Linked DNA regions of Homo sapiens. The protein of the gene in region 1 purifies or fractionates together with the protein of each later gene. This does not show direct contact. Each region holds a gene or a part of one and is shown on either strand. Other genes may lie near its edges.

What was found. Proteins that work in one complex are often made in the same cells at the same time.
Region 2: the proteins of ROBO2 (region 1) and TXK fractionate together in Homo sapiens (co-fractionation; one large-scale study listed by BioGRID). This does not show direct contact.

Annotation. Positions count from the first base shown.
Region 1 is NC_000003.12:77,637,234-77,642,192, forward strand, and holds part of ROBO2 (roundabout homolog 2 isoform 23 precursor), read left to right. Parts: intron 1-4,959. UniProt on the Homo sapiens protein: Receptor for SLIT2, and probably SLIT1, which are thought to act as molecular guidance cue in cellular migration, including axonal navigation at the ventral midline of the neural tube and projection of axons to different regions during neuronal development.
Region 2 is NC_000004.12:48,109,394-48,114,352, forward strand, and holds part of TXK (tyrosine-protein kinase TXK), read right to left. Parts: coding exon 4,955-4,959; intron 4,948-4,954; exon of another isoform or gene 4,349-4,947; coding exon of another isoform or gene 4,269-4,348; intron 3,917-4,268; coding exon 3,814-3,916; intron 3,120-3,813; coding exon 2,914-3,119; intron 1,211-2,913; coding exon 1,145-1,210; intron 1,137-1,144; exon of another isoform or gene 611-1,136; coding exon of another isoform or gene 588-610; intron 18-587; exon of another isoform or gene 1-17. UniProt on the Homo sapiens protein: Non-receptor tyrosine kinase that plays a redundant role with ITK in regulation of the adaptive immune response. Regulates the development, function and differentiation of conventional T-cells and nonconventional NKT-cells.

The DNA.
Region 1 (4,959 bases):
AGCACACTTACACTTATCATTATAGGACAGAATGAAGCTTAGTTGAAAAAGAAGAAAAGCATTGGTTTTTTATTAGTTTGGGGAAGGGAGTATCCAATCCTGCAGCCCTATTTGTGCTTTCTTTTGTCATCTTGCAAAGGTAAGAGGACTTAAAAAGCCAAATATATTGTTCTACATACTTTCCGGTTTACTTATCTTTCCTGCTTCCTTTGTTTTCAATAGAATATGAAGGTTAAGGGTAGAATTGAGATTTTTGAGTCTCTATAAATGTGTATCCTGTGGTGAGTAAAAATGGTCACCACTGCCTTTCTGCCTTATATGTTCAGAAGATTAGCTGAGCATTTAAAACTATTCGTAGTGTTCATCTAATTCTTCGTAAATAAAAAAGGACTACTTTCACTGAATTGCTAGGTATAAATCTAGTAATTGATAATTTTGTATATTTTTTCTGTTGTGAATATTGTGGAGAGAGAAAAATGTCTAGGTATAGAATTTTCTGTGGTTTTTCAGAAATGTTTGAAGATAATATTCAGAATATGTGGAAGATATAAAATATAAATCAACAAAATACAGATCTCTTTTTTTCTAAGACACTTTTATTGCAAGCTTTTTTAGAATGTTTCCTTAAAGCAAGCTACCTCCTAGTTTAAAGTATGATCAATATATTGCTTATCTTTCTAAAAAATAAATGTTTCTAAATTTTCAAAATTGCCAGCATTTCAAAAAGGGGTTATGGATTATGTGTTATTAGAAAATGATACATTTTAGAAGTAGTGATATAGCAAAGGAAATTTCAGCCCACATATCTTCCCAAGTGCTTAATCCAAAGCCATTTTAATTATGATACAGTGCAAAGACATTTATTTTGGATGGTGCTCTACAGGTTATCCTTAAGAACATTGTTATTTTGCAGCAAATGCATATGCCATAGCATTTATATGGTATGGATCCATATGTCAGAAATAATTTCATAACTTTTTATGTAAAAATCAAGTTGTTCTTTTTGGGAAGGCTGATACTTAGCAGCATTGATTGTACAGACATTTTACAATAAACCTTTTGCATTATAGATTTTACAACAGTGTTTGCTGTTTTCTAAGCAGTATTGTAAAGATGTAGGCCTTTTTAGCACTGGGATACCATCATTTCTGGATCAGACCTTTATGGTTTCTGAGGGGAAGACAGAACATGAGTGGTTGTTGGGAGGTTGTAATGGCAAGTGGCACACATCACTTCTATTTCATTGAAAACAACTCTGCCACGTGGTGTCAAACTAACTACTGGGGTGAGAAAGCTGCCTTCCCTGTGTCCCATAAGAGAGATTATGAATGGTGGGAAATGTCAGTCTGTATCCCAAAGACTGAAAAACCCACACACATCTTAAAGAGTGTTCTTCTCCCTTTTGTAAAGTTTCTCCAAAGCAGGCATTGCTGAGTCCAAATCTTGTATTCCATTTGTCTTATAAATCAAAGAATACCCTTGGAAGCCAATATATTAACCAATGCTAAAAAAGATAGATCTGTCTATCCATCAACCTGTTTCTCCTAGATAATTTATTTCCAGCCTATTCTCCCTTTCACCTAGCTTTTTTTTTTTTTTTTTTTTTTTTTGAGAGGGAGTTTTGTTCCTGTCACCCAGGCTGGAGTGCAATGGTGCGATCTCAGCTCACTGTAACTCCCACCTTCCGGGTTCAAGCGATTCTCCTGCCTCAGTCTCCCAAGTAGCTGGGATTACAGGCATCCACCACCACACCCAGCAAATTTTGTATTTTTGGTAGGTAGGGACAGGGTTTCACCATGAGGGCCAGGCTAGTCTTGAACTTCTGACCTGAGGCTCTCTGCCCACCTCCACCTCCCAAAGTGCCAGGATTATAGGCATGAGCCACCATGCCCGGCCCCTTTCCCCTAGTTCTTAATGTCCTGTTCAGAGAAGGGGCTCTTTCTCAGCTCTGCCACATACTAGCTTTGGCCTTTGAGCAAATAAATTTACATATTAATTAATCTATTCACTCAAATACTTATTAAGTATATAACATATAATAGACAATGGGAGCCAAACAGACAAAATCCCCTGCCTTTTTATATTTTAGTTGGGGAAGATAGATAAAGACCAACCTAAGTACATACATGAACATATAAGTAAGATGGTGATAAATGTTATGGGGAAAAAACAAAGGGAAGGGAGTTGAGAAGTATAGGTGTAGGGAGGAAGTATTTTTAAGTAGAGTGACTGGGGAAGTCCTCACCAGGAAGTCAGCATTTCAGAAAAGACTGGAATAACATAAGCAAAAAAGTAATGCTGATATCTGAGGAAAGGTTATTCCAGGAAATGAGAATGGCAAGTGAAGCTTGAGACTTATTTGATAAAAAGGAAAGGGAACGATATGACTGGAGCAGAGAGAGAAACAAGATAGAGTACGAAGTCAGGCAAGCAAACAAGGGCTAGTGTTTGTGAGACCTTTAAGCTACCATAATGACATTGGCTCTTACTTTGAATGGTAAACCACTGGACGGGGTGTGTATATGTGTGCATGCATGTGTGTGTGTGTAAGGCAGGGAAGTGACATGATCTTATTTGTATATTTTTTAAAAAGTCATTCTATTCTAGCTGCTGTGTTGAGATGTACTAAATGAGGCAAGGTGGAGATTGTGGAAGCTACCTAGGGAATAGATGACGGTGGTTCATACCAAAGGAGAATCAATGGCAGTGTTAACAAAGGTTGGATTTTGGAGGTAGAGCTAACGGGAGTTGTTATGAAATTAACATAGGCCATAAAGAAAGCAAACCACATTACTCTGAAATTTTGGCTAACTTGTAGAATGTAACTGTGACCAACTGAGAGAAGAAACACTGCAGAGGAAGCATTTTTTTTTTTTTTTTTTTTTTTTTTTTTTTTGAGACGGAGTCTCGCTCTATCCGCCAGGCTGGAGTACAGTGGGGCGATCTCGGCTCACTGCAAGATCCGCCTCCCGGGTTCACGCCATTCTCCTGCCTCAGCCTCCCGAGTAGCTGGGACTAAAGGCGCCCGCCACCACACTCGGGTAATTGTTTTTGTATTTTTAGTAGAGACGGGGTTTCACTGTGTTAGCCAGGATGGTCTCGATCTCTTGACCTCGTGATCCGCCCGCCTTGGCCTCCCAAAGTGCTGCGATTTACAGGCGTGAGCCACTGCGCCCGGCCGCATATTTTATATAGGATGATCTAGAGCTGAGTTCTCATACATGAAATTTGAGAAGCTTTCTGAACACCTAAGTGGAACTGTCCAGTGTAGCTCTGGTTACATGAGTCTGGAGTTCATGGGAGGAAAGATCCAAGCTGGAGATTTTTAATTACTTTGTGCCTTCATTTTCTTGTCTAAAAACAGAAGGTAATAATGGCACCTATCTCATTGGACTGTTGTGTGCCTGAAAAGAGCTAATCCTCGGTAGGCCAGTAAGAGACTTTATAGTGAATTGATTTAGTGGAAATGAATCAACATAGAAATGAATAATAAATTTAATTTAAGTAAATGTATTTGATTACATACTTTTATTTTTCAAAAAACCATTCTTAATCCCATGTCTTTTTCCAATTAGTTTATTTCAGTGTGCATGTAATGTCCTTTCTTAAAATATACAAACTCCAAGGATATTACTTATGAAGCTATATAATTTTAGGTTAAATTAAATAATAATCAGAATTTTAGCTGCATAAGCAGATGCCGTTTTGGCCATTTTAAAAATTAAGCTGCTCTGATGCAGAATAAAAATCAATGACAAGATAAGTTATTTTGGAAGAAAATACAATAATTTCTCCTCACTGGCAGTCTAAGTTCAATCAATCAAATGAAATAATTAATTTGCATTTATAATAACATATAGTGAAGGAAGTCAGTACTATCGAATATAAAGGAAACACCAAACTCATTGGATTATCCAACAAACAGATATCTCAATATTGGATTAGCTCTTCATTTTGGAAAAATATTCCAAATGCAACTTTATCCTCCGAAACAGAGACCCTGTTCCCTTCAGTTATTAGCAATTCATAATTTAACATGAGGACATACGTAAGAACTGGCAATGCTGCTCCAACTTAGGAACTCAGAGGAGATGCTCCAGAGACCAACATTATCAGTCCAATGCAGATTAGTATCACTTTGCTCATAAAAGAGAGTATAAAGGTTCTTGAAGTTTTTGAAAGGAGCGGCTTAGCTGACTGTTAAGGAAGCTATCTTTTGTCTACAAGAAATTTATACTTTTTCCTTCTAAATTTCACAAACAGAATATTATTAGAGACAACAGAATACATTTACAAAAATGGCATCAGAAATAATTGAATACATTGTGTACAATATCTTCTATTAATGAAATAAATGTATATTTTATATGATATTTGGTCTTTATGAAAAAATAATATAATTACCAATATTCTAAGGATGAACAAAGAAGTTTACAATAGCATGCAAGAAAAATGAGAAGAAAATGATACAAATTGATGTTCAGAAGATTTCAAAATCTTCAGCAAAGTAATTTCAGAACTAATACATACTTAAAAGAGAAAGAAAGAACTGTGATTTCACAGTCGAAGGCATACAAAATATAAAGGTATTATGATCTGAAGAGTTAATAAAAGAGAGATGAAAAGGGAGTTGATATTGGAACCTTAAATTTTTTCCTATCTGATATTTACTTTAAAGAGCTTTTCTGAAAAATTATCTCTTCTACTCTATCTCAAATTTCTGTGAGGCATTGTCTTCTCTAGCACCATAAAACACATTCAGTCTTTACTCTGAACATTGGTTATTACTTATTAAAATTAATACATCGGAAGATTGTAATATATTAGTTGTAACTCATTAGCTAACTCATGAAACGAACAGCCAGAATTGGTTGTCAAGCAGAATATTAATTGCATTTAATAAATGTTAGTTTAATGTTGTTAAATGTGCCACATACATGGGTAAAGGCAGTCATATGT
Region 2 (4,959 bases), on another chromosome or scaffold:
GCTCTGCCGAAGTGAGCACTTTGGAACTGTTTTCTAAGGAAGGTGGGTTCAGTCACCTGAGAACTTTGATTTACTGGAGATTAGAATCTCGGGAAGGGCTAAATGGCTCCAATAGAGACAGGAGGCCAAGTGAAGGTGGGAAAAGAGAGAAGAGATCCTATGATGGAGCTGAGGAGAGTGACTGGAGAGAGAACAGAAATAGCTACTGGAGAAATCTCATAGAGTAATGTAGATGAGTCATGTGTCCTGAAGTCATCTCCTTCTCTCCTCCAATAAAGTCTACATTATCCACCAAAGCTTTTGAATTCGAATTTGTTTTAGGAGAGATGTACTGAGTTAGGCCTCCAGGTGGGCTTTATTAGTAGCAAGACCAACCAAGGAGGTTCTCTCATTCAATTGTATTTGCTGCCTGGTTCTCAGAGAAGCACTTGTCTTAATGCCTCAATGCATATTACCTACTGCCACCTGGTGGAAGCATATGCTAATTTTAAGATAAGTGCCCAAGTGGGATGAAGGTAGGGGGAGATGCTCAAACTGAAAATCTAAATTTATAAAAAACATATGACTAGTCTCAGGCCGTTCTCTACCTGTAATCTATCAGTCTTCTCATCTGCAAAATGAGGGGCTAAAAAAGTGATTGCTAAGATTTCCTCCATCTTCCAAATCTGTAATTGTAACAAAAATAGATTTCAGGCGGAACTCTAGTGAACATGCCAAACAGTTCTTCCAAACTACAGCATTAGCCTAGTTCTTATCGTCAGCTATTTCTAAAACATATAAAAACATAAGCCAAAATATAGTACTTTATCTATATGGTTAAGTTTACCACTCATTGAAAATTTAATGTCATTTTTTAAAGTAAATTTTCCAGTTAAGATATATAGTAAAATAAGTGCCAGATGAGTGTTTGGGTTCAGGCTGTCACTGTTAAAACAGAAAAAGTGGCTATACAAAACAGAACAAAAATAAGTATAAGGAAAAGAAGTTTCTGAATCAACCATGATAAGGATCAAACGTCTCTTTATTATTAACGCTGTCAAATGTGTTACTTTTTTTTCCTTCTACAGACCCAAAACAGTATCTATACTTACAAGCTGCCAAAATGTCCCTGATTTTCATAGGTTATATTTTGGAGAAGACTTACTCATATATTTCTAAATTAGTTATTTTGTTTTCAGTCACATAGTTGCTTGGGATTAAGCCTTCATTCCTACAACAAAAGAAAAAGCAAAAATCAAAATGCTTGGCATGTTTGTGGCATTATCATGGCAACAATCCTTTTAAAACCTCAAGGATGTAGGGGGGAAATCAAATTCATTTTACTGATTAAATTGTTAAAAGGAGAAAAAAAAGTTTTTTTATTTCTAACTCAACAAAAATCTCTGTACAAGGAATGTATTAAGATGCCAACTTGTAATGTGAGTAGTTTAAGAGGTTTTATGACCCCACAATCTTTTCAGAGAGAAAAAGGGGCACTTAAATGATCATCTGATATCATAGTGATTATGTTAAAAACACAGCAATTACAAAGACATCGACTTCATTCTTTTCAATTGCTGAGGAGTATTCCATAGCATAGGTATTCTAGTTTAGCTACTTTGCTAGTAGAAGCAACGCTGTAAAGAAATCCTTGAACACGCCTTCTTGTACAGAAGAATATTTCTCAAAGACAGATAGCAAAGACGGGAATTGCTAAGTCACGGGATATGTACATCTTTCAGGATATGCAACAAATTGTCCTCAAAGGAGGATATACCAACTTACACACCTATCAGCATGGTAGAAGTTTCACTTTTCCTATACCTTAACCAACATTTGAAATTACAAAAAGATCTCCAAGACATATTATTGAGAAATAAAAGTAAGTTGCAGAATCATGCAGAAAGTAAGATAAGATTTAGGTAAATGAATTCTACAAACAATACCATATATTTTGATATGTGCATGTAAGTATACTGAAAATAATCTGAAAATGGATAATAGTATTTACTTTTGGGGAGACACTTGGGTTTGGAGGTAGTGGCAAAGCAGAATTTTGACATTAATGTTTGCATATTATATATTTTTAAAAACTCTATTCACTTACTGTGAAATAAAAAATTCAATTTTTAAGTCTGAGGCATGCCAATAGTATACCCGCAGGTGTGGCTAATTACACAGTCCTGAACCTACTAATGCCTCTTTTTCCACTGAAAAGTCTCCACCACATGTTGAGAACTGTTAAGAGAGCCACATCATTGAGAAAATGTAGTTGGAGAGGTATGTAATTTACATGCTTATAATACTTAGATACTTAAAATCTCCAAATCTTGGCAAATATCAGAAATCAATGCCAGCCTTCTCTCTCAGGAAGTCCAGATATTCCTCAGAATTCTTCTCAACTCAGGACTCCAGTCAGGCATTAACCATCTGTTGCAATTGGCACAATGAAACCTATCTGCATCCCAGGGTCTTTTTTCTTTCTAATCTAATTCAGCAGCGACTGCAATGTTTGCTTTCAAAACTAGTCATTCTAGAAACATAAAAGTGAATAAAATACTATTTCTGTTCTTACCTTAGAGCTTAACAGGAAAAAACTGACAAATTCCCAAATGAAAGCACAAATTAGAATAAGAACCTACATTGTCAGAATTATTATTTCCATTGTACAAATAAAGAAACAAAAACTCAGAGACGGTAAGTGACTTGCCCGGGGACACACAATAGTAAGCGGCAGCATCAGGATGTGAAGCCAGGTGTATCTGGTTCTGAGACTCTGCCTGAAATCACTGTTCTCTCATTCTCTCACACATCCTGGGGGAGAGGGGACAGATTCCATTTCATGCAGAGGGAAGAGTTATAAGCCTGAGTCACTAAGTAGTCTTCTTTGTGTTGGAAGAATTGGATACTGACTAAGTCATGTAAGTGTCTTACCCCAAACGGTCTCTTGCCTTCCACCAGTGAGGATTGTATTTCTCCAGTATCAGGTATTCTTCTGCTCTCCTTAAGGCTAAATTACAGGGTTCTCTGGGCAGAAAATCATAAAGTGCCTTGACTTGGATCTTCTCTTCAGCAACCTCAGAGGGTGGGAGGGGAGGCAGTGGCTTTCGTTTTGACGGCTGCACACGGCCCGTGTTGGACTGTGAAAACCAATAAGTGAGTTGTTTTACTATCATTTTAATAATTTGTACTAAAAAATATAGGGACAAAGCATATTTGCCTTCTGCCTCACTTTTCTTATCCAGCTACACCAAGGCAGAAGCCAGGATGAGATAAATGTAGAAAAGGACTAACTATAAAACTCCTTTAGGATCCAGCAATACACTCATCATTTTGTACACTTTTGAGATCACAAGTTCTCTTGACAGCATTTTACTGGATTTTTTTTCATATCAAAATTTTCAAAAGATGATGTACTCCTCTTCAATAGTTTTACCTTGTTTTAAGGATTTTTTTTCTCCTTAAAAGAAGAAAAATGGCCTTTTTCTTTTTATGTGGTGGCAGTTTGTGCTTGGGTTTACCATACTTCCTAAGAATGCTGTTTCTCACTGAAGTGAAAATTAATCTCAGCCTCAAAATGACAGAAGCCAGAATATGTTTTTTCCCACTCATTGCCCATTTTCAAGTTCTGCCTTTAAATATAAGTAGCCTATTTTAACTGGTCTTTTCTTTTTCCTTTTACTTTCTTCTAGAACATTCCTTCACAAATTACTGAGCACTTATTTTATGCCAAGCAGGATACTAGATTCTGGGCAACAAACAGCACCTCATGAATGAAGACTCTAAAAAGACAACCTTCTCCATTCCCCTCTTGCCTGTCAAAATGATACTTACTTGCTTCTTATTTGACAATTGGCTGAGCCACGGCCTGCGACGCTGGGTGTATTTTTCTGGAAGCTCTTCATCTGTGCTCAGGCTTATCTGTGTTCTCATTTGTCTGACATTGAAAAGCAATCATGTTACAAATAATTATTTGTACAAAAGTTATCTATACATCCACTAGATTTTCACAGAAATAGCAGAAAAATCCAGGTCTCTTTCCAACTCCATTTTCATTTAGAAGGCTTCCTAACTCCATCTCCCTGGGCAAATTACTGGTTTTAAGAACTTAAGTTTCCTTCTCCAGGAACTAGAGGTGCTAAGAGCATAGAGTTGTTATAAAATAAAATTGAGAAAACATGTCACATTCCCAGTAGAGTCTGGTGCATCTTCAGGGCATAAAGTTATAATCATTGTAATGAAAACTTACTCCATATCTGGCTCAGTGTTTGTCATTTTATATGCATTACCTCATTTGATGGTGTCTTTTTGTTATAAATAGACATGGTATAGTGATTAGGAACAAGAGTTTGAATCCCAGCTCCACCATTTCATAGTGTGGCCTTGGGTAAGCAATGTAACCTCTCTAATCTTCAATTTCCTCATCTGTAAAATGGGGATCATAAAAAAAAAAAGTAGGTGGTTTTGAGAACTGTATGAGTTAATAAACATAAATCTTTTAGCATAGTATCTGATATACAGGAAGCTCCTGTTAAATGTTAGCTTTTTCTGTTAACATGCTGCCTTGGATTTAATTCTTACAGAGTCATTTACTGCCACCAAAGTATAAGATACACCGGTAGTTTTGGGGAGATAGATAACTAAGATAGGATTCTTGCCCTTAAAGGGAAAAAATACGTATTGGAGCACAGACCTATAAACAACATACATGAAATAAAAATTAAGTGGAGAACAATGCCGCACACGGTGGGAATGCAATGGAATGAACAATGAAATCTAAAGGATCAGGAAAGGATCCCAGATGACCTGACATTTGACCTAGACCTGTAAACAAATAGGCATTCCACAGGGAGAAAATGGGAGAAGGTTCCCAGGTAGAGAGAACAGCGGGTGCAAAGAGACATGGTGACTCCACAGGTAATAAAGAAACGGAATTAATTAATTTTCAAGAAATTGCCCTCGGAAGTAGACTTACCGCTT